Regions from separate parts of the Homo sapiens genome. Here regions 1, 2, 3, 4 and 5 are each linked to region 6. Evidence: fine-mapped expression QTL. A gene starts in region 6. Each other region holds a variant in brackets. All regions are shown on one strand. Distances are from middle to middle.

Evidence for each region.
Region 1: its variant is fine-mapped to the expression of KANSL1 in whole blood (INTERVAL, PIP above 0.99).
Region 2: its variant is fine-mapped to the expression of KANSL1 in monocytes (Quach 2016, PIP 0.95).
Region 3: its variant is fine-mapped to the expression of KANSL1 in tibial nerve (GTEx, PIP above 0.99). The same link has a PIP of 0.9 or more in whole blood.
Region 4: its variant is fine-mapped to the expression of KANSL1 in whole blood (TOPMed, PIP above 0.99).
Region 5: its variant is fine-mapped to the expression of KANSL1 in whole blood (INTERVAL, PIP 0.91).

The regions. Positions count from the first base shown.
Region 1 is chr17:46,777,829-46,782,828 of GRCh38, reverse strand. All of the region lies in intron 1 of WNT3 (Wnt family member 3), which reads left to right. It also overlaps a transcript of LRRC37A2 not described here. Among named protein-coding and RNA genes, the nearest start is that of WNT3, 38 kb to the left of the region's middle. RefSeq lists an enhancer at 161-847. The variant G/A (reference allele first, on the strand shown) is at 2,439.
Region 2 is chr17:46,050,185-46,055,272 of GRCh38, reverse strand. It overlaps KANSL1 (KAT8 regulatory NSL complex subunit 1), which reads left to right. Exons shown (of 15, transcript NM_015443.4): 7 at 4,569-4,740. Among named protein-coding and RNA genes, the nearest start is that of STH, 53 kb to the right of the region's middle. The variant A/TTTA (reference allele first, on the strand shown) is at 2,479.
Region 3 is chr17:46,029,216-46,034,300 of GRCh38, reverse strand. KANSL1 (KAT8 regulatory NSL complex subunit 1) reads left to right here. Exons shown (of 15, transcript NM_015443.4): 11 at 16-140; 12 at 841-898; 13 at 1,109-1,221; 14 at 2,002-2,254; 15 at 2,598-4,385. The coding sequence ends at 2,825. Among named protein-coding and RNA genes, the nearest start is that of STH, 33 kb to the right of the region's middle. The variant C/T (reference allele first, on the strand shown) is at 2,431.
Region 4 is chr17:46,084,886-46,089,973 of GRCh38, reverse strand. The region is part of intron 3 of KANSL1 (KAT8 regulatory NSL complex subunit 1); the gene reads left to right. Among named protein-coding and RNA genes, the nearest start is that of STH, 88 kb to the right of the region's middle. The variant A/G (reference allele first, on the strand shown) is at 2,324.
Region 5 is chr17:46,751,970-46,757,057 of GRCh38, reverse strand. It overlaps NSF (N-ethylmaleimide sensitive factor, vesicle fusing ATPase), which reads right to left. Exons shown (of 21, transcript NM_006178.4): 20 at 1,689-1,744; 21 at 1-1,256. The coding sequence ends at 1,235. It also overlaps a transcript of LRRC37A2 not described here. Among named protein-coding and RNA genes, the nearest start is that of WNT3, 64 kb to the left of the region's middle. The variant A/G (reference allele first, on the strand shown) is at 2,117.
Region 6 is chr17:46,191,488-46,196,575 of GRCh38, reverse strand. KANSL1 (KAT8 regulatory NSL complex subunit 1) reads left to right here and starts at 3,147. Exons shown (of 15, transcript NM_015443.4): 1 at 3,147-3,753. It overlaps KANSL1-AS1 (KANSL1 antisense RNA 1), which reads right to left and starts at 3,003. Exons shown (of 2, transcript NR_034172.1): 1 at 2,838-3,003; 2 at 1-208.

The DNA.
Region 1 (5,000 bases), 590 kb before region 6:
GGCAGCTGGAATCCTGAGCTAGGTTTCTCTGGTTTTGTCACAAGCTCCCTGCCAAGCAGCCAGGTGAGCGGCTCCAGTCCAGGCCTGTGGCCTCCCTCATCCACAGCAGTGATTGCCTCGTCACTATGGGTGTAGTTGGGTGCATCAGAGCCCACCAGGCCCAGCCCCACGGTGTGCACACATGCCCCTGAACTGGCTAGGCTTCCTGTCCTGACATCTGCCAATCCTGAACGGCTTCTTGACCTAAGTGGAAAGGTAGAGGCCTGAGTTCCAAAGCCAACGCTTGGTTCCTCACTTCCTGCTCTTTCCTCAAACCTTTCCTTTCCCTTCTAGAAGTTTCCGTGGAGGGTGGAGCCCTTCTGGGCCCAGGAACAAGTTGGGCCTCTGTCCAGTACTGCCCAGGAGCCAGCAGGTGGAGCACCTGGCCCTGGCCTGTTGTGGGGTTGACAGGAGCACCGTGGCCCCCACCACAGGGAGAGAAAAATGACCACAGGAGAGGTGATTTCTGACTCCTTCTCCTCACCTTCCCTCCTCCTCTCCCTCTCAGCAGCCATGTCAGTCATTTTAAGAGACACTAGATCTTCAGATCAGAGTCTTAAGATGCCTTCCCTTTGAGGCTGGCACAGATGGTTAGATTTCCGCATGGAGAAAGGTAAGGGCAAAGGGCCTATTTCTGCAAAGAAGGCATGACTTGGGGAGACTTGGCCCTGGAGAGCACCCTGAGACCGAAGGGAGGAGGGGAGCCTTTCCCTGGGCCGCAGCCCCTGGGTCCACCTTCTGCAGCTCCACCCATGTGAAGCCAGGTGGGTCCTTTTTGTGCCCAGCCCCAGAGAAGCTTCTGAGAATGTGCATTCATCACCCCCAGGTTAAAAGCCTGGTGGGTAAAAGAACTGTGAGCCCTGGGTTCTCCTCCCACCTCCTGGGCAGCCAGCTGTGTGACCCCGGAAAATGACAAACCTCTCTGGGCCTCAATCTTCCCGTATAGAGGAAGAGGGAATTAGACTAGACCCGGGGCTCTGGAATTTCGTCCTGCACAGGGGCTCTAGATGCGAAGTTGAAGGCTGGGGATGCAAGCACCATCCCTCCTTTGATTTTTTTAATTTTGCTATTTAACCATTTTAAAGTGTACTATTCAGTGGCATTAAGTACATTCCAATGCTGTGTGACCATCACCACCGTCTGTTTTCATCATCCCAAACTCTGTACTTATTAAGCAGTAACTTCCCACTCCCTCCCTTCCAGAACCCCTGGCAACCTCTGTTCTACTTTCTGTCCCTGTGAATTTACCTAGACACCTCATGTAAGTGGAATCATACAGTGTTTGTCCTTATGTGTCTGGTTGCTGTCGCTTAGCTTGTTTTCAAGTTTCTTCTATGTTGTAGCTTGCATCAGAATTTCATTCCTTTTTTTTTTTTTGAGACAGAGTCTTACTCTGTTGCCTAAGCTGGCGTGTCTTTACCTAGAACCTCATGTAAGTGAAATCATACAGTATTTGTTCTTCCGTGTCTGGCTTCTGTCGCTTAGCTTGTTTTCAAGTTTCCTCTACGTTGTAGCTTGCATCAGAAGCATCAGAATTTCATTCCTTTTTTTTTTTTTGGTTGGGGGGACAGAGTCTTGCTCTGTCGCCCAAGCTGGAGTGCAGTGGCGCAACTGGCTCACTGTAACCTCTGCCTCTCAGGTTCAAGCAATACTCCTGTCTCAGCCTCCTGAGTAGCTGGGACTACAGGCACGCACCACCAGGCCCGGCTAATTTTTGTATTTTAGTAGAGATGGGGTTTCACCATGTTGGCCAGGCTGGTCTCGAACTCCTGACCTGAGGTGATCCACCCGCCTCAGCCTCCCAAAATGCTGGCATTACCGCCACCACACCCGCTTCCTTCCTTTTTCTGGCTGAATAGGGTCCCACTGTATGTATGGGCCACCTGTTGTTTATCCATTCATCTGCTGAGGACTCTTGGGTTGTCTCTACCTTTTGGCTGCTGTGAGTAGCACTGCCGTGAACACTGGTGTACAGGTGTCTGTTGGAGTCCCCATTTTCTTTCCTTTTTTTTTGAAACAGAGTCTTGCTCTGTCACCCAGGCTGGAGCGCAGTGGCGCCATCTCAGCTCACTGCAAGCTCTGCCTCCCAGGTTCATGCCATTCTCCTGCCTCAGCCTCTCTGAGTAGCTGGGGCTACAGGCGCCTGCCACCACGCCCGGCTAATTTTTTGTATTTTTAGTAGAGACGGGGTTTCACCGTGGTCTCGATCTCCTGACCTCGTGATCCTCCCGCCTCGGCCTCCCAAAGTGCTGGGATTACAAGCGTGAGCCACCGCACCTGGGCAGAGTCCCCATTTTCAATTCTTTTGGGCGTATACCAGGTGTGGCATTGCTGGATTATAGGGTGATTCTATGTTTAACTTTTTGAGGGACAGGGCCCTCTTTTCATATGTTCTGTAT[G/A]TAGGGGAGAGGAGGGAGATTGTGTGTGATTCCATTTGGGAGGCCACCTGGTTGGGTGCAGGACTGCCTACCCTAATGGATCACTCAGGGGAGTGGGTGCTGGCAGCACAGTGGGTGTCCCTGGCAGCACAGTCAGACCCCCATCAGCAGGGGATTGGCCGTCACTGGGTGGACGGCAGCATCTGAGGCCAACAACCCCAGTGTCAGATCAGGCAGGACGCACTGTACAGGGTGCCTTTAGGTGTCTCACCATATGTTAGGTGCGTAAGTCAATGCAGCATCCAGGCTGACCTGAATTCACTGATTAAAAATGTTCTCTAAAAATGTTCTCTATGGCCAGGCATGGTGGCTTACGCCTGTAATCCCAGCACTTTGGGAGGCAGAGGTAGGTGGATCACTTGGTCAGGAGTTCCAGACCAGCCTGGCCAATATTGCGAAACCCTGTCTCTACTGAAAATACAAAAATTAGCTGGGCATGGTGACGCATGCCTCTTATCCCAGCTACTTGAGAGGCCGAGGCAGGAGAATCACTTGAACTTGGGAGGCAGAGGTTGCAGTGAGCCAAGATCACGCTTTGTACTCCAGCCCGGGCAACAGAGCAAGATTCTGTCTCAAAAAAAGAAAAAAAAAGGTCCTCTCTGCCTTGTGCTCACCATGCAGGCCTCCTGCAGCCCTCTGGCCACAGCAGGCGTTATCAGGGTAGAGGCACAGAACTGGGGTGGGGATGGGAGTTAGATAAGGCCATGCACAAGGTTTAGGTCTTGCCTATTTGTGGAGGGATATTTCACTCCAAGGGGTCAACACCAAAGTTTCCACAAGCAGCCTGTTGTGCAGGGCACCCGCAGCCCATCCGCCTGGCTGCCCGTGTGTGTCCTCGGCCCAGCTGGGCAGTGGGTGGTCGGAGTGGAGGATGAGCCGGCTTCAGGAGGAGGGTGGCAGGGTCCTAGGGAAGGGAAGGGCCGGGCCAGGAGCTGGGTATAAATAGCCCCTGGCCCAGCTGCGAAGGCCTGGCAGGGTCCTCCGCCCTCCCCCTCACCAGCTGTCAGTGCCAGGCAGGTCTCTATCCCCCTTGGGAGCCTGGCCATCATCTCAGATCCTAAACGTAGGAACTTCCTCAGCGGAACCAAGGAGTCTTGTCCTGTGTGTAGGCGGAAGCTCCGGATGCCGGGAGGTCTGGCGAGTGAGGGGCATCAGGCTCGTCCTTTGGAAGAGTTCTTCATTCCTTTCCTCCAGAATCATGAATACCTAGCATGTGCCCGGCCCTTTGGAAGGCCGAGTGGGCTGGGGTGTGTGTGTGTGTGTGTGTGTGTGTGTGTGTGTGTGTGTGTGTGTGTGTGATGGGGTAGGGACCGGGGAATAACTGGAGAAAACACTACCACTACCTCTCTTCTTGGAGACTGAGACTGGCATAGCCAGATGGAATTGGAAACAAATCAGTTCAGCACTTTGGGATAAGAAGGTTTGAATTAGGTACAGGAAAGATTCAGGCGGAGGAGAGGTGACTTCTGTCTGGAGCTCACAGAAGGCTTTAGAATGGTGGTGACCTAGGAATCAGGTTTCAAAGGATGGTGTAGAATGGTTGCCGGGGGCCGGGCAGTGGAGAGGTGCTTCGAGCCGAGGGCTCAGCATGTGCAAATGTGCAGAAGTGTGAAACAGCCCCGCTGGAGTCATTCAGCTGGCTAGGCAAATCCGTCAAAGCCACGCACACTTTGGCACAAAGAATCGAGGAGCATGAGAGTCACTGTGCCGCCTCCCGAAGTGGAACGTGTACTTCAATAATGGGGAATAGGAGTGGCGAGTTAAAGTAATGTGTCTGCGATGGTGGAATTTCAGCAGTGTGCGGGCAGGAGGCTCAGGGTGGGGGTGGCCGGGCATGTTTGGGGAAGGGCAGCCATCCTGCAGAAATCAATCCCATGGCCACAGCCTCTTTAGTCTCCGACACTGGCCCAGGAGCTAAGCCCCATCGCCAGAGGCCTTGCTAATTACTCGCAGGATGACCCCATCTGAACTGAAGCCTTTGAATGGAGCATCCTGAAAATGTCCTTTTGCCTGCACTCTTTGAGTGACCTTGAACCCTCATCCAGATCACAACTGTCTTTGTTCTGCCACCCCTGTGAGGACTGAGGTCTGATCCAGGCATCCTTTCCAGTGTTGGATAGGAAGGGGCTGAGATTTCTGATGTGTTCTACCAAGTCAGGGATGCAAGGATGGGAGAAATGAGGTTGGTGACAAGGCAGGGAACAAAGTGCTGGGGACAGCTCCACACACACCGTAACCATAGCAACCACCATCTAGCAAGGGCTCCCCACGTGCCATGCACTGGATTGTGTCACTTATTCCTCCTGTCGTGTCTATTTTACCGATAAAGAAACTGAGGTATAGAGGTTAAGAAAATTGCTGAGATCAGCAGCTAGGAAGTGGTAGAGCTGGATGGGACCCTGGCACCATGGCTCCCAGGTCCACAGTTGGTGGGACCTGGGCAACAGGAAGGAGACAGGGTTTGGTGGAAAGAGGGAAAACAGCTCATCATGACTGAGGCTCAGGAATTGTTCTCAGAGGACA
Region 2 (5,088 bases), 140 kb after region 6:
AGGCTGGTCTTGAACTCCTAACCTCAGGTGATCCACCTGCCTTGGCTTCCCAAAGTGCTGGGAATACAGGCGTGAGCCACCGCGCCTGGCCTTTCACTTGTATTTCTAAATAAAACTTACTTTGGGCCGGACACGGTGGCTCACGTCTGTAATCCCAGCACTTTGGGAAGCTGAGGCAGGCGGATCACGAGGTCAGGAGATCGAGACCATCCTGGCTAACACCGTGAAACCCTGTCTCTACAAAAAATACAAACATTAGTCAGGTGTTGTGGCGGGCGCCTATAGTCCCAGCTACTCGGGAGGCTGAGATAGGAGAATGGCATGAAGCTAGGAGGCGGAGCTTGCAGTGAGCTGAGATCCCACCACTGCACTCCAGCCTGGGCGACAGCGAGACTCCATCTCAAAAAAAAAAAAAAAGTTACTTTGAATACTGACATTTAAAGAAAAAGACACGATGTGAGAGAATGACCATGGAATTAGTGGTTGAAGAGCCAAGTGCAGAGGCCTGTGATCTGGAAGGTTGCCTGCTATCTTGGAGAAATATAGCAAGGAAATCAGAGTAACTGGTAGTGTCAGCTAGGAGAGTAACAAAAAAATGAGGTGAAGTCAGAGAGAGGGGATAGAGGCGACAAATACTATAGGACCTTGTGGGAACCATGCAAGAAGTTTGGTTTCTATTCCTCGTGAGATGAGAAGTCATTTGGAAGATTATGAGGTTGGTATGATGTGATTGAGATTTTAAAACAAGATTTACACTGATTACTGTGTTGATTGATTTGGAAGTAAGAACCAGTAGGAGGAGGATCAGTTAGGAGGCTTGAAGAAACCCATTTGAGAAAAGATAGTGACTTGGACTAGATTGAGTGTAGTTGAGGTGGTATGAAGTGGTTGGATTCTGCCAATAGGATTTCATGACTGGGACCGGTCGCGATGGCTCACGCCTGTAATCCCAGCACTTTGGGAAGCTGATACGGGTGGATCATCTGAGGTCAGGAGTTTGAGACCAGCCTGGCCAACGTGGTGAAACCCCGTCTCTACTAAAAATATAAAAGATTAGCTGGGCGTGGTGGTGCATGCCTGCAATCCCAGCTACTTGGTAGGCTAAGGCAGAAGAATCTCTTGAGCCCAGGAGATCCTTGTTTTTTTTTTCTTTTAAGAGACTGACTCACTCTGTCTCCCAGGCCTGGAGTGCAGTGGACATGATCACTATAGCTCCTCACTCCTGGGCTCAAGTGAGCCACCTCAGCCTCCCAAATAGCTAGGGCTACACATGCACACCATCTGTTGTGATATTTTTAAAAATTTGTTTTCTTATTGTAAAACACAATATTGTATGTGTTCTTGTTGTTTTTTAACTTAAATGAATTCATGCAGATGATTTGGCATCTTGTTTCAGTGGAAGAGCGTGTGCGTGTGTACACTTAAGTTTGTCTGCAGGATAGATTCTTGGTGTGGATTTGTGCAACATGGGTATGAATTCAAGTTTTCTTTCAAAAATTTTCCAAAATGTATCCTTTAATAAGTATTAAATATATCTTTGGCCGGGTGCGGTGGCTCATGCCTATAATCCCAGCATTTGGGAGGCCGAGGCGGGCAGATCACGAGGTCAGGAGATCAAGACCATCCTGGCTAACAATGGTGAAACCCTGTCTCTACTAAAAAAATACAAAAATATTAGCTGGGTGTGGTGGTGGGCGCCTGTAGTCCCAGCTACTTGAGAGGCTGAGGCAGGAGAATGGTGTGAACCTGGAAGGCAGACTTGCGCCACTGCACTCCAGCCTGGGTGACAGAGCAAGACTCTTGTCTCAAAAAAAAAATAAGTATTAAATATATTTTTATATACTCCTCGGGTTCTATTAGTACTTTACAGTTTTTAATTTAAAAGTGAGATTACTGTTTAAGTTACATGTGTGCACATTACCCTTTTGTCAAGTTATAAGTAGAATTTCTACCCTTTATTTTATTTTTTTAAATTTTTAAATTTTTTTGGAGACGGAGTTTTGCTCTTGTTCCCCAGGCTGGAGTGCAGTGGTGCAATCTCAGCTCACTGCAACCTCTGCCTCCCAGGTTCAAGTGATTCTCTTACCAGCCTCTCCAGTAGCTGGGATTACAGGTGCCCACCACCATGCCCAGTTTTTTGTATTTTTAGTAGAGACGGGGTTTCACCATGTTGGCCAGGCTGGTCTCGAACTCCTGACCTCAGGTTATCCACCCACCTTGGCCTCCCAAAGTACTGGGATTACAGGCGTGAGCCACCATGCGCAGCCTTTTTTTTTTTTTTTTTTTTTTTTTTTTTTTTTTTTTTTTTGGAGACAGGATCTTACTCTTTTTCCCAGGCTGCAGTGCAGTGGTGCAATCATGGCTCACTATAACCTGAACTCCTGGGCTTAAGCGATTCTTCTCCCTCAGCCTCCTGAGTAGCTGGGACTAAAGGCATGCAATACCATGCTGGGCTAAATTTTTTTTTTTTTTTTTTTT[A/TTTA]ATTTTAAATTTTATTTTAAGAGATGGAGTCTTACTGTGTTGCCCAGGCTAGTCTCAGACTCCTGGCTTCAAGCAATCCTCTCTCCCACCTCAAAGTTTTGGGATTACAGTTGTGAGCCACCACGCCTAGCCACATCTATTGAATTTTTTTATTGTTGTTGTTTTGTTTTTTTGTTTGTTTGCTTGTCTTTGGACTTAGTCTCATTCTGTCGCCCAGGCTGGAGTGCAGTGGTGTGATCTCAGCTCACTGCAACCTCTGCCTCCCAGATTCAAGCGATTCTCCTGCCTCAGCCTCCCGAGTAGCTGAGATTACAGGCTCCCACCACCACACCCAGCTGACGTTTCTATTTTCAGTAGAGTCGGGGTTTCACCATGTTGGCCAGGCTAGTCTCAAACTCCTGACCTCAAGTGATCCACCCGCCTTGGCCTCCCAATATTGACTTTGACTTAAGTGATACACTCTAGCCATAAAATGTAGTGTTGTTAAATGTCCCATATGGAGAGCTAGTTGATGTCATGGGTTGGTTTCTAGTCTCTCTCTTTTTATTTTTTATTTGCTATACCTACTGGAGTGAGATAATCTCTTTTGAATATTGAAAGTTTCAGTGTAATTTTTGGATCCTAACCAATTTTCCTAAATCCTCCCACTCACCCACTGTGTGATCTCATTTTCATCTCTACCTACTCATTTCTCTTTACCTCAAAATGTCATCCTCTCCAGAAAGCCAGCTCTGATTACATAGATACAGGGATTTTTTTTTTCCCAAAACAATACCAGTTAATATTGTCTACACAAAAGTAGCATGCCTAGTTGGTATCACTCCCTTTCAGTGGCTTCTAGTTCTGTGTGATTTGCCCAGTCTAACCTTTAAAAGACTTTATTTGCGTGCCACCTCTCTATGTGGTTACAATAGAATGTCGGGGGAATGTTGATAAAGACCACATTGTTCTTATGTATATCTTTCTCTTACACAAATCCATAAAAGGCTTTCGAGATGTCTCTGCTGAAAATAAATGGAGCTCTAGTAAATGTTAGAGTTTTTGCTAGTAGAGTTTTGATGCTTTTTGTCTTTGTTCTACTACTGAGCTTGCACCTAGGATGCCTTCTTATAGTGCCATTCAACATGCAAGTTTCTTTTTCTGGGGCTGTGTGTCCAGGTGACTTTATGAGTTAGGCTTTGGCAAATGCCAGACTTGTTCATCCTAACACTAGAATGTAGGGATCCTGCATTCAGCATGACCTGAAATTTGCTCAAAGTATAAAATTGTAGATGTTCAGTTTTTATACAGAATTCAATCTTTTGAAGACTTAAATTAGTTCATATTTAACTTTGGACTTACCTGGAGAGGTTATCAATTATTCTGCCCACATGTGCACAAAGGAAGTTCAGTGGAAATAATTTCTACCCTTTGGAATTAATCTAACATGAAGACTATGAAAGTGAGCATTTGCTGTACAAAATGTTATTTTATTACTTAGGTATGAGCTTTGTAACAGTGGATTTTAGGCCAGGTTAAAGAGTAGTTAATAAGTTACTTTTAAGTTACAAGCTTCAGGGAAGCTTGCCACCTGGCTTGAGACCACCTGAAAGTCTTTTGAAGAAGAGGTGTGAAAAGAAGAGAAGAGGTGTGGTTGGTAATTGAAGGCTCCTAGGTGGATAAATTTGCTGAAGAAAGCAAGTAATGTCCCACCTGGGAATCAAGAACCAACTGTTCGTCTTAGCGGACCATCAAGGTCGTGAAAGCATGCAGAGTTTATAAAGTGTTCTCAGAAAGCACAGTTTTAGTATCTTTTTAAACTGTCAGAAGTTTGATACCTAGGTAAGCACTTAGAGCTTCAAGTAGTTAGATTTCATCAATGAAAAGGAAGCAAGTTTCCTTACCCACTTTGAAGGTCAGTGTGTTAGACAAATGGAAATCTTTTAACAAACTAATCAAACATCCTTTTAGTAGTGTCACACAAGTATCTAGAAAGGTCTTCGCAATAACAAATGGGGAGCTAACTTCTCAATAACAAATGGGGATAACAAATGGGTAGCTGGCTTTTTATCAGATGCTGAATTGTCAGTTTTGTTTGGCTTTTTTCACAGGTTCACCGGAACAGCACAATCCGCCCTGGCTGTGATGTGAATCCCTCCTGCGCACTGTGTGGTTCAGGCAGCATCAACACCATGCCTCCCGAAATTCACTATGAAGCCCCTCTGTTGGAACGTCTTTCCCAGTTGGACTCTTGTGTTCATCCTGTTCTAGCATTTCCAGATGGTAAGAAAGACCACAGACTAGAAAGTCTAATGAAAGAAACTTGAGAGACTTCTAGGTGAAAGAAAATCAGCCAAGGTGCAGTTACAACTCAGATACTTTCAAGGTACAACTTTCGTCAACCAAGTCTTCTCTTAGAATTTTGCAAAAAGACTGTAACAGATCCACCAAACCAGAAGGTGCCACTAAAAGGTTGCAACTTAATATGAGATTTCCTTCTAACTCTTCAAGTAGCTAGGAGGGATCTGGGCTCAGTTGCCTCTAGCCACAGTAATCTGGTCCAAAATACGCTTAGTATATCTTTAAAAATGTTTTGTCTGGGCCAGGCGTGGTGGGTCACGCCTGTAATCC
Region 3 (5,085 bases), 160 kb after region 6:
ATTTTTATCTTACAGCAGCAGCCAGTAAGGAGGAGAAGGGGAGAGAGCTCATTTGATATTAACAACATTGTCATCCCAATGTCTGTTGCTGCAACAACTCGCGTAGAGAAACTGCAATACAAGGAAATCCTTACGCCCAGGTAGAAGCTCAGAATAGTTGGCTCCTCTCCCCATTCTTCCTGCTATTGCCCTTTTTCCCTCTTCTCTTCTGACCAAGAGTTGGGCCCTAGTCTTTGGTTCTGTCTTCTCATTAAGAGAAATTCTTATCTGATAAGAACGAAATTATTTCTGTATATAGTTCTCTCTCATTCCATTATAGGAATACACCAAACGAACCAGCAGTCACAGCCTGGTAGGCCATTCACTTACTGGTCTAGAGACCGGTTTTGTCAACACATACAGTATGTTTTAAAATACTGAATTTGTTGTCAACATCAAAGCAGGATTTCACATAAAAATCTTTGTTTCCAGCTTTTGTTGCCAAACAGAAGATTAGGCAACCCTGGGTATGCATTTCCATATGGGAGCAATCAGCTGGTCCTGAACAGTGGTGGTCCTCTTTAAACAGGTTTCTTTTCTTGTGTTTGTCACAGTCTCTCAGCCTCAGCCTTACCCTAGGCCGCTTCTCTCATTTCTGGCCTTCTTGGGCATTTGAGTAGGTGGCCAATTTCACAGGCCTTGACAGGGTAGGGAGACTGAGCTGTGATAGGGCAGAGCCTACCCGGCAGAGAGCAGTGTCACCCACAGGTGCAGGATTCTCATCCTTGCATGGACACTTTGACCCTGCCCCCAGTTTTAGCCTGCTTGCCATCTCATGATTGTCTGTTCTTGGTTTTGCAGCTGGCGGGAGGTTGATCTTCAGTCTCTGAAGGGGAGTCCTGATGAGGAGAATGAAGAGGTAATGGCCTGGTTCTTCTGTTAGAAGAACACGTGTGTACACATGCACACATACATATGAGTGCACACACCCTAAATGGCCTGAAGACTTGTGGGTGTGAAGTGCAAGCTCCTTGTATTCCTGTCGTGACCGGGAAGAACCTAGAATGGGGTGGGACTGGTTCTTAACTCCTGGAGAAAAGAGGGGATCGATGAAGCTGCTCTATTGCAGATTGAGGACCTATCCGACGCAGCCTTCGCCGCCCTGCATGCCAAATGTGAGGAGATGGAGAGGGCACGGTGGCTGTGGACCACGAGTGTGCCACCCCAGCGGCGGGGCAGCAGGTGATGGGGCAGGCTTGGGTCCCCAGGGCCTGTGGAGAGAGGGTGGACAGGGAGTTTGGGCCCTACTTGAGTCCATGGAATTGCTACTGCCTCTTGGTTGCTCATCATACTCATCTACTGGCAGTGGCAAATAGCTCAGAATTTCCTTGGTGTTTGTTGGAACTAGTGGAGATACATGGAACTAGTGGAGATATAAGGAGCCAAGTGCTAGATCCTTGCTGAGAAGTCACTATGTAATTCTGAATTCCCATGATCTGTGGCATTTGGAAGACAGTTGGGGGGTCATGGTGATTCAACCCGGGGAGCTTGGAAGGCCTCGCTACAAGTTAACCTTCCTTTGGACAGTGGCTTTGTGATGCCACTTGAAGAAACTGCCCCCCCTTAACGTCCATCACTACCCTGTCTCCATTTATTGTTAACAGTGGCAGAAACCCTCGGGATTCTCAAGTAGAAAGTTTTGGGAGCTCTTACTTTTACTTTTTTTTCTTTGACTACAGTTTTCAAAGTCTACACGAATCTCCCTAACCTCCTGAATTCACTAGGCACTTTGCTATGGACTCACCTGGCATTGTTCAGCCATGCTTTTTTCTTGGGATGGTAAATGTTGTATACCTACCCCTCCAGAGAATAGTGGGAAGAAATGGGAGTTGCTGGATCCTAAGGAAAATCTGTTGGTGTTTGTTTGCCTCAACTCCTCCAGTGGGGATGCTTTTTTCATGCCCTCTACCCCCATAAGTAAACATTTCCCAGGCACTCAGATTTGCATTCCTTGGTGTGCAGGTCCTACAGGTCATCAGACGGCCGGACAACCCCCCAGCTGGGCAGTGCCAACCCCTCCACCCCCCAGCCTGCCTCCCCTGATGTCAGCAGTAGCCACTCTTTGTCAGAATACTCCCATGGTCAGTCCCCTAGGAGCCCCATTAGCCCGGAACTGCACTCAGCACCCCTCACCCCTGTGGCTCGGGACACTCCGCGACACTTAGCCAGTGAGGATACCCGTTGTTCCACACCAGAGCTGGGGCTGGATGAACAGGTAAGGGACGCAGCCTTTGGGTGGGGTTGGCATGGTTGGGGGATGGAACCAGGAAGGGGCAGCATCTGCTGAAGAGGGACCTAGCCATCCCCTCCCCCTTTTGAAGGGACAAAGGGCTGCACTTAAATTGATCTCCTCAACGTTCAGTGGAACTGTATTGATCACTGCTAAATGAT[C/T]AATACAGTTGTCTGGGTATACCCTAGGAGGGGTGTTCCCAGACTGTCGCAGGAACACTAGATAGACTGGTCCTAGGCTCCAGGCCACAAGGTTTGTGGCAGGGCCTTGGAGCAGGAAGCAGGCTGGCTGGGACTGGGTCCTCAAAGAGCAACTTGTCTGCCTACAGTCTGTCCAGCCCTGGGAGCGGCGGACCTTCCCCCTGGCGCACAGTCCCCAGGCGGAGTGTGAGGACCAGCTGGATGCACAGGAGCGAGCAGCCCGCTGCACTCGACGCACCTCAGGCAGCAAGACTGGCCGGGAGACAGAGGCAGCGCCCACCTCGCCTCCCATTGTCCCCCTCAAGAGTCGGCATCTGGTGGCAGCAGCCACAGCTCAGCGCCCGACTCACAGATGAGCGGGAGACAGCCATCTAAACAGACTCACTAACTATTGGCATTAAAGCTTCAGAAATCTCTGCGTTTGATATTCAAACATCATATGCCGGAAATTTTCACAGTTTTTAGTGAACTTAAGGAATTTAGATCCTACTTTGGTATTTTTTTTTCTTGTTTTAATTTTTGTTTTGTTTTTGTTTCCATGTTTTCTTGTCACACACCTGAGCACTTCCTCCCGTTGGCAAACAGAAGTTCAGGATGAGACCCTGCTGGCCTGGTCCTGGCACATCCTCTGCACTGTTGAATCACTGGACTTACTGATCTTAGATGACCACCCCCTCCCTCACACCTGTGGGCAGGGCAGAACAGCCTGGCGGGCTACAGTTTAGCATGGCCTTCTTGAGCTAGGGTGGAATGGGGCAGGGTGCTCTGGACTCTTACCCCCTCCCCTCCCATCTGTGGCTTGGCTCTGCTGTGGCCCTCCTGGCTGGGTCCCCTTGGTTTTTCGTGCTGGAACATCCCCACCAGAGCCTCTCTGCCATAACTGCCAGCTGCTCTCCCCGAGTGCTCAGCTGGCAGAACACCTTTCCTTTCTCACCCAGAACTTAAGAGACTGATTTTTTGTTTCATCTGCATTTGGTCTTCTCTGTTTTGACTCTTTCACTGCAGTAACCTGGCTGTGGCTGCTCAGGTTCCCCTCCTCATGCCCCTTGGTACCCTTCCCTGTCTGCTCTCCCATGCCATGTACACACCCACAACCCGTCCTTCCACTTGGAATATTTTTACCACCTATCCTGATCTTTGAAGGTAGGGTTAGGACTACTTAACCTCTATTCCCACTCCCCTGCAAACTGGGGGTTGTGGGAAGTGAGCAGCCATCTCCCTGTGTGATTTTTTTTTTTTTTCCCTCTGATTCACTTTGCCATGTTTCCTTCACATCCAGATCCCTGTCGGTGTTAGTTCCACTCTTGGTCTTTCACGCTCCCCTTGCCTGTGGAACATTGTCTGGTCCTAGCTGTGGTTCCCATTGTTCCCCCTTCACCCTTCTCTGTTAACCTTGTGCCTGTCTCCTGTATGATCACATCACCAAAAAGGGGGAGGGGGGAGAAGACTCTTTTTTTTTGGCCATTTTGTAATCGTATAAAAATAGTAGACAACTGCTTAATGGTTGGGGTTTTTTCACAATTTTCAACATTAGTGATTTTTTTTTCTGTTTGCAAGTTAAAGGGTTTGTCATTGTTTCTTTAAAAAAAAATACAATAATGCACCATATCCCTATGCATAAAGTGCTTCTTCTATTTATAAGGTTGAAAATTCTGAATAACCCTTTTAGCATTGAAAAAAAAAACAAAAACAAAAAATGGAAAAAAAAAACCTTGTATTTTGTAAATATTTTCTTTTCCTGCTTTGGAGCTGTGTAATGGCAGCGAAACATGTAGCTGTCTTTGTTCTATAGAAATGCTTTTCTTCAGAGAAGCTGATCTTTGTTAATGTCTTGATTCTGTTCGCAAAGCACAGACTAGTGCTTAAAAAAAAAAAAGAAGGAAAAATTGAAAAAAATAAAAAAAAAAGTTACAGAATGCTGTGTACCAGGCCTTTCTTGACTTACTGAACTGTGTATGCATGGTAGTGTTGGCAGTTTCGGAGCTGGCTCTCTGCCGCCGTTCTTTGGGGTACTCTGACTTGCTCTATACCTTGGAAAATCTCCATTCTGTCTTGTGGGAACGCCGCAGGTTGATCTGATGGCCACCAGAGAGAGAATGGTGGTGGCTTTTCACTGAGGGTAAGGGCTGCCAGGAGGAGAGGGGATCTGCATTGATCATCTCTTTTTTCTTTTTGTTGAGTGAAAGCAGTTGATGCACTTTCTCTCTAGTGAAGTCAGCTGTATGATATTTTCTATCTGTTCTAAGTTGCTCTTTAAAGGAGATTTTGCTTCTCACTGTTAAATTTTTCTGAGGTTTGGTGGGGTCAGTGAGATACATAATTTGCTTAGAGCCTGGATTGGTTCTTGCCTGCTGCCTGAGATTATAACATCTTTCTTCTGAGGAGGTTACACGCTTTTTTTTTTTATTGTTTGAGATGGGATCTTGCTCGATTGTCCAGACTGGAGTGCAGTGGTGCAATCTTGGCTCACTGCAGCCTGGATCTCCTTCCTGGCCTCAAGAGATCCTCCCACCACAGCCTTACCAGTAGCTGGGACTGTAGGCATGTGCCACCATACCCAGCTAGTTTTCGTGGGTTTTTTGTGGAGATAGTGTCTCACTATGTAGCCTAGGCTGG
Region 4 (5,088 bases), 110 kb after region 6:
TGGAAGAGACAATATTCAACTTGCTCTAACAAGCCATGGAATTTTCCCCCAATGATATATTCACATGCATTTAGTCTTTATGTAACACTATAATTAATAGAAGTTTTTGAGCACTTGTGATATGTCAGGCACTGTGCTAAGCATTTTACTCTCATTCACGATTTTCAAGATAAACAATGGAAGATCAGAGCAGTCAAGTAGTTTGTTCATGGTTACACATCCAAGTGAGTGCAGAGCTATTGCTCAAGTTAGTAATCACTTTAAGTGCTTGGGTTTTTTTTTTAGTTACTGAAATGGAAGAAAGTTTTTCCTATGTGTTTTGGTTAAGTGGGTTGGTGTTCATATTTTCCATGCTGCACCAAGATTTCCCAGCACTTCCTGGGTTGCACAGGTCTTTTTTTTTTTTTTGAGATGAACCTAGGTGATAGGCTGAATCTTGGTGATAGGCTGTTGAGTTATAATTTGTCTTCGGGTGGGAGATTGGAGGGATGGTGGGGCTTTTCTTTTTAAGGATTTACTTTGTTGCTTATTAACATTAATTTTATTTAAGTGGCGTATTACCAAAAAAAAAAAAAGTATTTGTGACTACTGCTAGGTGATTCTAGGATCCAGACACCAGTTTCTGTTCTGTCAGAAGGTAGGTATTACCTTCCAAGCTGTGAAGTGAGTAGAGTCCCTTTTGGGAATAATATTGCTCTCTGGAGAAAGAATATAACTTCTAGGAACTCCTCTGTACTACTTCTGCATGCTGTTGTACTCTTTTAATTTTCATAGTTTGTCAGCTTGTTTTTTAAAAAGAAACTCTTCCATGCTTTAGAAGGAGAAACGAAAACAATATACGTACCTTGAGTGTATACTAATTAAAGGTTTACTCATGTATGTTCGTTTAATGATCAGAATAAATCTTCAGAGGCTTGTAAAAGGCAGAGCTAAATTTAAACTCAGGACTTTTTATCTGATTCCAAAGCATTTTTTTTCTAACATACTTTGCTGTTGTGTCCTTTTCATCATTTCACTGAAACATGTTTGTTGAAATTTCACACCTGGTAAATGAGGGGAAAGAATAGGGACTAAGCAGTTTTTAAGAGGCAGGGTCTTGCTCTGTTGCCCAGGCTGAGGTGCAATGGCCAGATCATAGTTCTTTGTAACCTGAAACTCCTGGGCTCAAGCTATCCTCCTACCTTAGCCTTGCAAGTACAAGTAGCTGGGACCATAGGCAAGTCCCACCATGCTTAGCTAATTGTTAAAGGGTTTTTTTTATTTTAAAGGATGGGGTCTCGCTGTGTTGTCCAGGCTGGTCTCAAACTCTTGACCTCAAGTGATCCTCCTTGCCTTGGCCTCCCAGAAGCACTGGCTTGACTCTTACGTTGTTTTTTAAAATCTCCTCTTCTGACTACTCTTTGAGATTACACAGCTGTAGCTGAGGATGGAAATGTTATTGAGGATGGGAGGTGGAAGAGCATTGAAACTTTTGAATAGGGAAGGAGTTGAATGGGAACTGCAGAAGCTTATAACACCTTTCTCTTCAAAATTTTCATAAAGCTGTTGAAGTTCTCATCTTAATAGGGTTTTTTAAAGCACTTTAGACAACTTATCTTTTCCAGGTAGCCCAGGGTGATTCTTGTGGAACTGGTCTGCAGTGGGGTCACTGGTTTGTCTTGAGATGCATAGGGAAGATTGACCTGATAGAGTGATGTAAGGAAGTATGTGAAATTGCCTGTTAGCTGTATTGCAAATACAGTTGAGAGAGGGTTCATCCACAGAGGAGTCACTTAGGAGGTATTAAGGCTGCATGTAACTGTGACCCATTCCAGTTCCTTTGGTCCTTGTGTAAAGCAGAAGCTTGCTTCACTCTTGGAGTTTTCTAGGCCTGTGCAGCCTAAGCATGATCCTGGCTCTGACTCGGGACATGGCGAAGGAAAAGGAGACTCTTGACCTTTTTCTTCGGCTTCTACCGGTTGCTATTTCATAGTACAGCAGCCCTAAGTTTATTGCCACCAGGCTAATGGCACAGCTATTCAACACTGACCCAGTTTAAACCTGGAATGTTAGGGAAGCCCATGTTGGGGTAGCATGACAGGTGTGGAGTAGAACATTATGAAGTTTTCTCAGCTAATGCTAACCTTTCTTTTCATGGTTATTAAACATGAGTAAACTTTATCCGAAATAAGTGTTATTGTGGCATATGAAACATTGTATACAGAAAAGGGCAAAGTCATTAAGTGTATAGTTAATGAATAAGTATAGCTCAAAATATATTAAATATATTTTGGGGAATGTTAAGTAATTATGTAGACCTCCTCTGTAAAGCCTCACTTTCATC[A/G]GTCTCTTCAGTTAGGCTCTTTTCTGCTCTGACATCACCTTCTCTCAACTTCTGTTATAGTACTGTCATAATACTTTGTCTCTTTGTCTGTTCAAGGCTAGATGAACATAAGCTCCTTATGGTAGAATCTGTTTTTATTTTATTACTGTGTTTTCACACTACCTTGCACGTGGTAGCCACTCAATAGATGCTACCTGCATGAATGACTCTTACCTACTTGGATGCTTTTTATTTGCTCAGCCTCTTTTTAGCTGTTTTCATCCTTTTTGGTGTGAGGTACAGTATTAAATTAGAGGATCCAGTGTTTGGTTTTGAATGCCATAGTGAACTTACATATCTTGGGGGCAATGGACAGTGTATGGATGATTGTTGGTTGCTTCAGTGTAACACTTGAGCACATATTTTCAAAAATAGGTTTAATTAAAACTAATGTGTATTCAAATGTCCTCTGAACAAATGAAGAAGAGTTCCATTCTTCTGGTTGTGGAAGCTAGAAACCTTGGCAGTGTCTCTGACTCTTTTCCCTCCTATCTTGTAAGCACATTGGCATAGCTGGTTGATTCTGTCTTCAAATAAACATTCAAGCAGGGGCACAGTGGCTCATGCCTGCAACCCGGCACTTTGGGAGGCCAGGGCGGGTAGATCTCTTGGCCCCAAGAGTTTGCAACCAGCCTTGGCAACATGGTGAAACCCCTTCTCTACTAAAAATACAAAAAACTAGCCAGGCGTGGTGGTATGCGCCTGTAGTACCCCCTCCCACTTGTATCTCTCTCTCTCTCCTGGGCTTAAGTGATCCTCCTGAATATCTGGAACTACAGGTGTGATATTACACCAGGCTAATTTTTATTATTATTGTTTTTGTGGAGACAGGGTTTTGCCACGTCGCCCAGGCTGGTCCTGAACTCCTGGCCTCAAGCAGTCCTCCTCCATTGGCTTCCCAAAGTGCTGGAATTACAGGCATGAGCCGTCACGACCAACCCCACCATTTCCACTTCTTAATCCCCTCACTATCCTATATTTTGTTCTCTCTAGCATTTAATACCTTCTAATGTAGTACATAACATTTACCTATTTACATTGTTTTTCTTTGCCGCAGTATTAGAACGTAATAAGCACTTTGAAGGATGGGTTAGGGGAGAGGGATAGGTCTCTCATTTTTTCTTGTATCCTTAGTACCTAACAAATGCTGATGAGCGGATAAATGATTTAATTAACTGAACAAAAGAGGAATGAAATATTAGTTAGATGCAGACTTTTGCCCCAGTTCTGCCATGTATTGGCCTGTAGAGACATAAGCTTTGACCTACATCCTCTGTGGGTCTATAAAATTATGTCGATGAATAGATGGTCCCTACCAAGTTTTATTATACTCTCTTAGGAGATGTCTTCATAATCTATCTGAGGGTTGTATTTAGAAATTATTCTGTAGTTTAAGGAAAAATTCTTCCCTTTGGAAAATACTGACTGCGTCCTTACTTTCATATAACTGAAAAAGAAAAATTGAAGGAGTAATTTTATATCTAATTGTTAGATTTATTTATCTTCTGGCTATAATTATTATAAAGTTAATATTTTCCTGTTAGGAAAAAAATTATACAACTCAACAAATATTTGCTATGCATTTATTTTCTTGGTGTATGACTCTGCTAAGGGACATGGGTCATTTAAATATATTTGTATTTTGTCCACATCTTCAATAAACTAACATTAGTTAACAATTAAAGGCTGGGTGCAGCGGCTTGCACATGTAATCCCAGCACTTTGAGAGGCCGAGGCAGGTGGATTGCTTGAGTCTAGGAGTTTGAGACGAGCCTTGGCAACATGGTGAAAGTCCATCTCTACCAAAAAATAGAACAATTAGCTGGGTGTGGTGGCTTGCACCTGTTATCCCAGCACTTTGGGAGTTTGAGGCAAGTGCATTACTTGAGTCCAAGAGTTCGAGACCAGCCTGAGCAACTTGGTGAAACCCCATCTCTACCAAAAAAATACAAAAATTAGCTGGATGTGGTGGCATGCACCTGTTATCCCAGCTATTTATGGGGTTGAGGTGGGAGGATCACTTGAGCCCGGGAGGGGGAGGTTACAGTGATTCGTGACCACACCACTGCACTCCAGCACAGGTGACAGAGCTTGACCCTGTCTCAACAAACAAGAAACTGAGGCAATAATAAGTGAAATAAATAATGTGGCATAAGATTATGAATGCTCTGGAAATGAGATTTAAATACACAGAAAGTAAGATACAATCACCGTGCTTTAGGAGGTCTGGCAGTGTGGATAAAGCAAGTAGGAACTCATTAACCCGGGACATTTTCTTGGAAGGAGGTGGGACTTGTTGAAAATCTCTTTGGAAGGACGAACGGCAATTTGGACTGATAAAATATAAAAATGAGTATAAATAAAGATGAACAGCTCATGTGTTAACCTTTAATTCAGTTTTTTTTAACCTTCTACTGACTAATAACCCTTACCTCCAGCAGCAGCAACAGCTTCACATTCATTGAAACATTTGTCTAGGAGATGATGAGATTGGTATAACACTAACAAATATTTGGGGAAAGTAGTTGGAAATTGATCTTTAAAAAAGTTCTTAGGAACCGGTTATGGGAAAATTTGAATAATAAAATGATTTTTGGCATGCTTTGTACAGGAAGCAGGAAGACAGTTTGGGCCCTTAAGTAGGGAATATCTGTTGAATACAACGTTTTGAGAAGGCAGTGGTGTACAAGATAACTGTCTTTTGCAAATAGTTTTTATTTGGATGT
Region 5 (5,088 bases), 560 kb before region 6:
GGTAAGCACCTTAGGATGGCTTCTAATTGCTTGTCCTTGCATTTTAAGCAGCAGTTGGGAGAGAGAGGCACACTCCATAAGTCTCATCACCAAATATGACCTAATTAAATTCCTGCTAAGTCAGTCAGTTGTAAGACAAATCACCCTCAAAAGGACTCAACGGGTGCTTCCTTTTGGAAGAAGTGTGTGGAGGGTAAAGGAAATGTGTTCAATGTATTGGAATGGACAATAAAGGACTGAGGGAGAGGGCTAGAAAATGATTGATTTTTCTGGAGAATAGTGTTTTAGACACTAGATAGTACAGATCATTTAAAATAAAGGATAAATTCTAAGTAAGTCATTAAGCTAAGGAAAAAGCAGTGATACTAGTAAGCCTTAATATTATACTAAGGAATTGACCCACTTGGAGTTGGACACTAATTAGTGCTGAGAGGTTTGTAAATTACTTTAATAACTCCTTTCTGTTTGGGGGTGTATGCTTTTTCCATACCTATCTTTCACATGTTTTTAACAACATCTTCTAAGTGGTAATAATGAGCATATCTCTTACCACAGAGCAAATTAGTTATACTTAAGGGGAAGTCACAACCAACACGGTAGTCATCTGACTTTCTATTAAGAAAGATCTTCTGACTGCAACTTGAAAACATCTCTGACAATGATTGAGAACAGCATTTTAGAGATTCAATGCCTTGTTTCTTCAGGCAAAGAGAATACCAGTCTTGTGGGAGACCTTTAACCAAATACCCAGTGACTTTTAGTGTTAGCTCAGGACAGCTGTCAGAGGATCTCTGGCCCACACCTCGATTTACTAAGCCAGATTTGCATGTAGAAAGTCTGCCTTCTAATCGGCCAACTGTTGTCATGCAACATTCATGACACTGACTGAGAGTTTTCAAGGGTGATGGTGCTAGTAGAGAGGTTGAAACGTGTAGTGTCCACAAGTACTGGATGGTTCCCACCCAGAGGGACTGAGCAAGAAGGAATCACTTTAGCCTGCATGGGAAGGTAAGCGCAGCATTCTAAACCAAATTGACACCTTCCACGAGACACTAAGCTATCTCAGTATGCATAAGGAAGGGAGTTTTATTGCACTAATCATGCAGAGCGAGCACATGTTGAAGGTAGAGAACGTTCCACTTAGTCCAGTATCTTGAGTAAGACAGTGAAGATCCTAGGCCATCTTCACCTTGGTCACTTCCCTTGGTCACTGTGTGTTTCAAATAGTTCATTTTCAATCAAAATCAAGGGGGCTACTGCAAAAGAAATACCAAAACACAAAAAAACAGATGAGGGTCCGTAAAAAACTATTCATCAAAAAAAAAAAAAAAAAAATCACTAAAAGCTTCTTAATGGTTATCCTACATTTCCCACTATGCATTTGCTATTAGATGAGCACTTCACAAAAGAAAATGGTCACAGCTCCATGCATGTAAAAGCAGGTTCCAATAAATATGTACCATTAAGTTTTTCCTGCATTGTGACAAGGAAGTTTTGCGAAGCAGGACAGGGAGAGCAAACCAACAGTACAACCAACTTCCTTGCTTGGTCTCTCGGACCTACAACACAGCGAAGAATTCAAATAAATGGAAACAAACTTATCTAGGAAAGCAACTCTTAGAATAGGCACAGGGATTTAACAGGGTGGTAAGTTTGGTTGATGGTCATTAAATGTTGTATGTACTTACGCTCCTTCTTCTCTTAAGAGGGCCAAGAATTTTCTCACACGGTATTCAGGATCCATCTAAATACATCAGAAGAAATGAAGATGGGTTAATGGTACCTTCTAACAACTCTGCACTTGCTTCATGAGAAGGCAGTGTTCGGTTTCACACTTCATCAATGCTCTGCTAGGTCACTGAATGTGTTACCTGCTCCTTGACCAGCATTCTCACACAAAACAAAGCAGATCACATCATTTGGAGGAAGTGAATGGGGTTTTCCAGAACTATGTACACTGGGTTCCAAAAGACCCAAGCCCGCTGGCCATCATAGGCACTTGGGCCAGGCGTGCCCTGTGCTGATGCCTGTGAGGCATCGCTGTGAGACTGGACAGGGCCATTCATCAGAGTTCAAATGACAACCAATTCACCTGTTGAAGGTGTAAAAGGCTACT[A/G]AAGTCACAGCAAAGTAGAAGATACCAAGTTGAGGTTAATTCAACAACTAAAAAATAGCTTATTAACTCTACATAACCAACCATGTAGCTTTTCTTAGCCTCAGTATCCGTCATATAGTTTCTTCTTTGTAGTAACAAAGTTGTGCTAAAACTAAAAAAATGAAGAGTACTGCTGATTCCTGAAATCATCTCCAGATGAATCTGGGTCTCCTGTGACTGCGAATGTGTCATGAGTCTAAGAAAAGATGGCGCAACTTTGTTTCAGGTGCTTCGTTCAGGTCGTTATTATTAGCTATCTCGACTGGTTTTCATTTTCTATTCATATTTATACTAACTCGTTAAATGTACTTTATTCTCGTAGGCCCACAGGAGATATGAAGTTATCTAGAAAACAATCGTTAAAAACATCTTTAGTTCCTGAAGATGAATTTTTATTGTAAGAAACACACCTAACTTTTAAAATATGTTTCAGAGCAGGAGTCTGTTTCCCAAGAGGGAACTCCCTGCCCTCCAGGAATAACTTTCAAATGCTCAGTGCAGCTGTGGGGAGATGTGCAATTGGACTCCCACTCCAACCACGGATTTTTTTTTCTTTTCTTTCTTTTTTTTTTAAGATTTCTTCTATCCCAGAAAAACACTGAACAGAAGTTTCAAATGTATCAAAGGTAAGAGGTCAGACTACAAAGGACTAAGAAAAAGTGTGAATAGCTAACAAAAGAAACATTTTTCCTTTTTGGGAATAGAATTACATATGAATCAATTGTCAAGTTCTTAAAAAAAAAAAAAAAAAAAGAACTGGCTGGAGCGCAGTTGTAGTTGGTACTTGCAGTTCTTTGCCCATTAAATATATTTAATATGTGTGAGCAACAACTTACTGACTTGCCTGTAGCTATGGAATTAAAAGTCAGGAGAAAGGGAGGAAAAAAGTAATCTAGATAAATGACTTTATTCCCTCAGGTGACATCCAGTCAGAGCAGATCCTCAGCTCTGTGCAAGTTTTAACAGAATAGCATGTAGTGAACAGAGAGGTACCACGACTTATATTCTGCAAAACTACATGCCTCTTCACTTAGGTTCAGCCTCTCTAAGGCAGATCTAAAGAGAATTCACTCAGCTGCACGAAATCCATTTGACATGAAGGGGTTCAAACTCAGAGGCCTATGAAATGTCAGTCGCTGAAGATCAGGCCTGAGTGCCCCACTCTCACTCTCTATCCCACATGCATAAGAAGCATTAACTTGATCACTGACCTGCAGGCATCAAAGGAAGGGAAAGGGATGAGGGTTGGGGAAAAAATCCACATAGTTTCTTCTATGCAATTATTGAAAAAAAATTATACTGAAACTTAAAAAAAAAGAAGCTGACAATCTGACAGATTTATCTTTTTTTCAAGGAAAGAGCCAATACACCTGTATTTGCACTTTTACCAAGAATAAGTCTAAACAAAGTGGTTAGTCTGTGACTTTAATTTATGGCTCATAATGGAAAATAAATTAATTGACTTAAAAATAGTCCATCTGAAAGCTCAGTAGATTAAATTAGATTTCTGAAAGTCAAAAAAATTTTATTTTCAGATAAATTTACCAGAAAAGATTAAAAAGCATTCACTTCACGTTTCCAATTTGTTATTGGTCCAAGAGCCTATTTCAGATGTAACTGTGAAACAGAAACTTCACCTCTGCCGCTCACTGCCCACACTAGCAGAATGCAGGACCATCAGTAAGTAACACATGATGCCTAGAATACAGCCACTCTGTCCACCTAGATGGACCTAGTAACACCTAGTAACACATGATGCCTAGAATACAGCCACTCTGTCCATTTACCTAACTGTAAAATGAATTTACAGTTATTCATCCAACAGAAGTTTACTGGCCGGGCGCAGTGGCTCACACCTGTAATCCCAACATTTTGGGAGGCCGAGGCGGGCAGATCACCTGAGGTCAGTAGATCGAGACCGGCTTGGCCAACATGGTGAAACCCCATCTCTACTAAAAATACAAAAAATTAGCCAGGCATGGTGGGTGGGCGCCTGTAATCCCAGCTACTCAGGAGGCCGAGGCAGGAGAATCCCTTGAACCCGGGAGGTGGAAGCTGCAGTGAGCCGAGATCATGCCACTACTCAAGCCTGGGCAACAGAGCGAGACTCCGTCTCAAAAGAAAAAAAAAGAAAAAAAGTTACCGAGGGCCAGGCATAGTGGTGCATGCCTGTAATCCCAGCACTCTGGGAGGCTGAGGCAGACGGATTACTTGAGCTCGGGAGTTCAAGACCAGCCTGGGCAACATAGTGAAACCATGTTTCTACAAAAAATACAAAAATTAGTTGAGTGTGGTAGCACACGCTGGTAGTCCCAGCTACTTGGGAGGCTGAGACGGGAGGAACGCCTGAGCCTGCGAGGTCAAAACTGCAGTAAGCCATGATCATGGCACTGCATTCCGGCCTGGGAGACAGAGCGAGACCCTGTCTCAAAATAATAATAATAATAATAAAAGTTTACTGAGCACCTTCATATGTGTTGGCTCTGTTCCAGGGGCTGTGGACTCAATAGTAAGAGCCAAGGTCTCTGAACTCATAGGGCTTGATAGGGAGGTATTTATCAGCTACCTAGTATGTCAGATAAGGACAAGAAGACACAGCATGGGCACATGGAAGGGTGGAGTTCTAAAATGAAGAAAGGTAAGTTGCCAGGAGATATGAGAAAGTCCCAAAGAAGTTTCATCTGTCTTTGCCCAGGCAGCACCCTGGGGCTCAGTTTTCTATGTGATTCTGGATGCTTCAACCCTACAGTAGTTTGCATGAAATTTCTAGGAGCCCAGCCAGGGACAAATATACAGATCCCAAGTCTAGACTGCACAACTTAATTAACTTGTCCCTTAAAGCAGTCTCCCAGACACCGTTTGGTATATGTGCAGTCGCTTACTGACTTGAGGTGCAACACCATCCCTTCTCCATCAATAACCTGGTGATGTGA
Region 6 (5,088 bases):
CTATCACCAAGGACCAACTCTCTATTCCCTTTGATGTTGGTGGCATCTTCAGGCTTGCTGCAAAGGTGACTGTAGCAGTTTGAGGTGTCACTGTCTGAGGAAGAGGGACTGTTTTTTCCTCCATCATTTTTAGGATTGAAGAACCTTTTCTCACAGTTCTCTTTTGGAGGCTGTCCAGGGGGCTTCTACTCACATCTCATGGCCATTCCTAACCAATCATTGGCAAAGAGAATGGGTTAAAACTAATCAGAATAGAGTGGATATTGGAGAGTCAACATGACTATTCCAAGAGTGATTTGAAATATGTTGGTGTTTTTATTTTTTTATCACTTTTCATTTTGAGATGGTCTCGCTCTGTTGCCCAGGTTGGACTACAATGGCATGATCATGACTCACTGCAGCCTTGACCTCCCAGGCTCAAGCAATCCCCTCAGCTTCTGGAGTAGCTGGGACTGTAAGCACATGCTACCACACTTGGCTAATTTAAAATTTTGTTTGTAGAGATAGGGTCTCACTCTGTTGCCCAGGCTGGTCTCTAACTCCGGAGCTCAAGTGATCCTCCCACCTCACCCTCCCAAAGTGCTGGGATTACAGGAGTGAGCTGCTGCACCAGGCCTTTTTCTTTAAATCTTTTTTTGTTTGTTTGTTTTATTTTGTATGTAGGTGTTTTCAATCAGCCTTTTGGACATCCACTATTTTTTGGGGGGAAATTTAAGAAAATTTGTTTCTCTTCATAAGATTTTTGTGTGGTGGCTCATGCCTGTAATGCCAGCACTCGAGTCCAGGAGTTCGAGACCAGCCTGGGCAACATAGGGAGACTCTGTATCTACCAAAACAAAAAGGAGTGAAAAAAATAACAGCTGGGCATGGTGGCATATGCCTGTAGTGCCAGCTACTCAAGAGGCTGAGGTAGGATCGCCTGAGCCTGGGAGGCTGCAGTGAGTTTGATTGCACCACTGCACTCTAGCCTGGGCAACCGAGCAGGACCCTGTCAAAAAAATAAAAGTACAAGTGGATGCCTAATAAGAAAGATGTCTGATTTTAGATAAGAATATACAACAGGTTGACTGATTTAAGTGCCATAAACCCTGTGAACTCTTGACTCTTGCACTAAGCAATGAGAGAAAGGGGAAACTGGAATTTATAGTTCCCCCAAATACATGGTTTTAAAAATGAGCATTTTCCAGTTTTCTCCTAATCCATTAGAAAAATATATTTCATATAATCTTGCTTATTTGGTTGCCTAATTAAATCTGACAGTTCAGTCTTAAAAATTTGGAGCAGCAGTAAGATTATTTTGTTATGGTGTGTCTGAATTTAATATTTAAGTATACGCTGCAAAGGGCTTTGCCTTATTTGGTATTTTTCATTCTGCTAATTTAGATTTCAGGAGCCTCAGATTGGGGCTCTAGTTCGCCATCTGTTGGTCCAATACCCTTCTACTGTATTTTGTGGAATTACTATTTATGTGTGTATGTGTGTACAATAAAAAAGTCAAAGTTTTTCCCCAGGGTTGTAAATTAAAAATCCAAGACTAAAGACCTCTTTTGGATGTGTATACAAATATTAGTTTATTCTTTGTGTAATTTGACCCTATGACTCCAAACTGCCTGCCTTTGGTATTTGAGAACTATGACTATGCTTGAGAGTGTGATTTTAGGAGTACAAATGGAAATTCGCAGAAACCTAGGTGCAGATGTTGCAGGGGCAGGTGAGTTAGTGTAACTTTGTGGGAAGACTAAAACCGTTCTGTAACGACTGTGAGGGTGTTTTTTGATAAGCAGAAGTGACGTATAATGCCGGATATTGGTTCTGGTAAGCCACAAAAAAGTGTGAAGCATTTTGCGTCTTCCTTTTTGGTAGTAGAGCATACATACCCTTCTTATCTGCCGAATTTGATGATTTAATGATTTGAACGATTTTTTCTTCAGTCATTTAAGCCAGTTTTGATGAATCCTAGATTAGTCTTTTAAATCTCAAGATACTCCACTCATCTTTTGGCAACTTTAAAGGGTGGTAGAATTACACTTTGTGTGACACTTTGTATTACATTATGTTTATGAATTCTTTAAGTCTAGGAAAGGTTCCATTATTTTAAAGGTCCTATTTTGGGGACAATATAAAGTTCTGTACTGATAAACTGGTCATGAGAAATGATAAGGTGCCACCACTTTAAACCAACTCTGGTAACGAGGTGGGAAGTTGGCTTTTTGTTGTGAGACTTGTGTTTCTTTATGGAGTTCTTTGTTAAACTTTTAGCATGGCAGTGAACTTCCTTTTGGTGGCGGCAGGAAGCATAAATACTCATTGTGTAATGCCATTTGCCTGTTTTGGCGGATCTGCCAAGCCATGACACCCAAAACAAGACGCGTGTTTCTTCACGAAAACTACAGTTCCCAGCGGGCCCGGCGCCGGCGGGGCCATCACTTCCCCTCTGGCTCCCGGCTGTCCCTTCCCGGGCTGGCCCGGCGCGGGCCCTGGCTGGGGCCTGCGCAGTGACTACGTGCACCCTCCCCACCCCGCCCAACTCTGGTGGCTGCGGAGCGCGGTGCTGGGGCTAGTGCCCAGCCGTGCTGCAGTATACGGAGGCTGGCTGCTAGGGACAAAGGGCGGGCGGCGGAAGCCGCTTCACTGGTCAGGGAGCTTTCTGCAGGGTTAGCCTTGGAATAGTGTGGTGCCGACGGCCTTACCCTCTTTACTACACAGTGCAAACAGTTCCTCGCTCACGTCCTCTCGCTCCGCGGCGCCGGCCCGCCCTGCCCCTCAACTGGCGAGCCGCACCGCCGGCCCCAGCACGGAGGGCATGTGACGGCGTCAGTGCCTCAGGTTAGACTCACCTCGGCCGCAGCGAGGGCTGGCTTCCCCCTGCCGCAGTGCTGCGTGCCGTCGCCGCACGTCCGGGGCAGCTGGGGCCGGGCGCCGCGGCCTCCGCAGATGGAGGTACAAAAACATCGGCCACGGCGAGGAGCCATGACTGAGGCGGCGGCGGCCGCGCCTCCTGGCGGCCCGCGGGGGCGGCGCGGCGGGCGCCCCCTGGCGGCGCGCCGGGGTGGAGCGGCCCTTCGCCGCCGCAGCCGCAGCCGGCGGAGGCGCTGCTGTCCCTCCTCCCCGTGTCCCCGGCGCTCGCCCGCTTGCTCGCTCGCTCCATTCTCCCTCCGCTTCAGATTAAAGGGGGGGAGGGAAAAGGAGCTCGGCCGCCATTTTCCCAGTGCCGCCGCCACCGCCGCCACCGCTCGCCGAGCCGGCGGGAGAACCGAGCACCGTAGCGAAGCCGACTCGTCTCGCCGCGGCGGCGCGGGGGGCGGCTGAAGCGCGCTCCCCGGCTGGAAAGAGGCGGCCGGGGGTGGCGGCCTGGGTGCGGGTTCGGGCTGCAGACGGCGGTGCTTGTTTGTGCGGGGCGGGGGGGCGGTTTCACTCTCTGCCCCCGCCCGCCCGCCCTCCCGGCCGGGCTGCGGTCTCCAGCCGTGCTCGGGCCCCGTCGGTGCGGAGCAAGGCCGGGAAAGGGCCCGAAAGAGAAGAAAAAGCAGCCGCTCCCCGCCGCCGCCTTCCCCTCCCCCTCTGCCTCGCCCCCCCGCCCGGAAAGTCAGGGCGGCTCCGGGCGTCGGGGGGAGGAGAGCGGCGGGCCCGGGCCGGAGCCGCCGTCGCGCGCCCCCGCCCGCCGCTGGCCCTCGGCGCCCAGGCCGGGGGGCTGTTTGCAAACTGCGCCCATTTTGTGGGGCTGAATCCGCCCGGGCTACGCTCCTCCATCACGTGGTAGGTGCTGCTGCTGCTCCTCTCCTCCTCCTCCTGCTGCCCTTTCTCCTTCTCCTCGCTCTCCCTGTGGCTCCCATTTCTCTCTCTCTTTGTTAGTTGTAACTAGAAAGGCAGGGCAGGGTAGAAAAATCCCCCGGAACTTTAAATGGCCTCTCCGGGCTTCCCTGCTGCGGGTCCGGGCTGGGAGTCGCCCCAAGGGCGGGGGTGTGCGGGGGCCCTTCCCCAGGAGCTGCCGCCTCGTTCGCCAGCTTTTCCTTTGGCGTTCTATTTAAAAAGGCGGCCTGAAGAACATGATTTATTCCCGTAAAAGAACCCCCCAAACAAACTCTGGCTCTCGCCTTGAACTTCTCTTGACTGCAAAAGGCCTTTCTCTGCTCGAAACACACATCTTGGCGCGTTGCACGGTTTGTATCACAACTCTGATTGTTTCATTTATTATTTTTGTTGCCTGTAAATTCAGGTCACTTACGTTTTCAGATGTAGTCTCCCTCAGGCGGACTTTTTTTTTTTTTAAACTAAAGAGGAAGAGGGATTTATTTGCTTTTAAGTGAGTTGGAATCTTAACTGCCTTTTTGGGGGCCTGTTTTCCGGCTGACGGTCTTTTGATTCTTAGCAAATAGTTTGTTTTCCATACGATAAACAGCGCTACTCCCGTGTCTTACTTAAAAATCCTCGTTTTCCAATGTTGGAATCCCAATGTGGATTTATAGAGAAACGTGCTACTTAACTATTGCTTACTGATTGCTTTAGGGGAGAAGGGGTGACATGATGGCGCCACTTTAAATTGCTCTCTTTCCTTTTCCTCGGTCCCCCCCACCCCCCTTTATCCTGGAGGTCACTGGAGCATTTTCTGTGACTTATTAATAAAACTGTACTTGAGGGTGTTAGAAGCACAACTCGTAGGGGCTGGAGTTTAGTGCTCCTAGGGTCGGCAGACCGACTGCCGCGGTCCCCAAAGTTCCGAGAAATCTCTCTTCCTCCAGCCTCGCCTCCCTCCCCTCCATTCACAATCCTGGTGTTGCCATCTCCTTTGTCACGTGGCTAGCAATCATTGTGTTTTTTTGTTTGTTTTGGGGTGTGTGTTTATATTTTTAAATTGCAGCTCAGAGGAACCTTTCCTTTTCGCTTTGGAGAGATCAAAACGTTTTACTTGTTTTAGTTTTAGAGTCGGAGAACATTTTAAAATAAACGATAAAATTACATAATCTTTGCCTTGCATAATCATGATATAGTTATAGATTGCTACTGAACTTCATTTTGAAAGTCCTTTCAAGTATGGAAACTAGTACGTTAGAATATGTTTTCCATTTGTCAGGATGGTCTGTAATTTCTGTT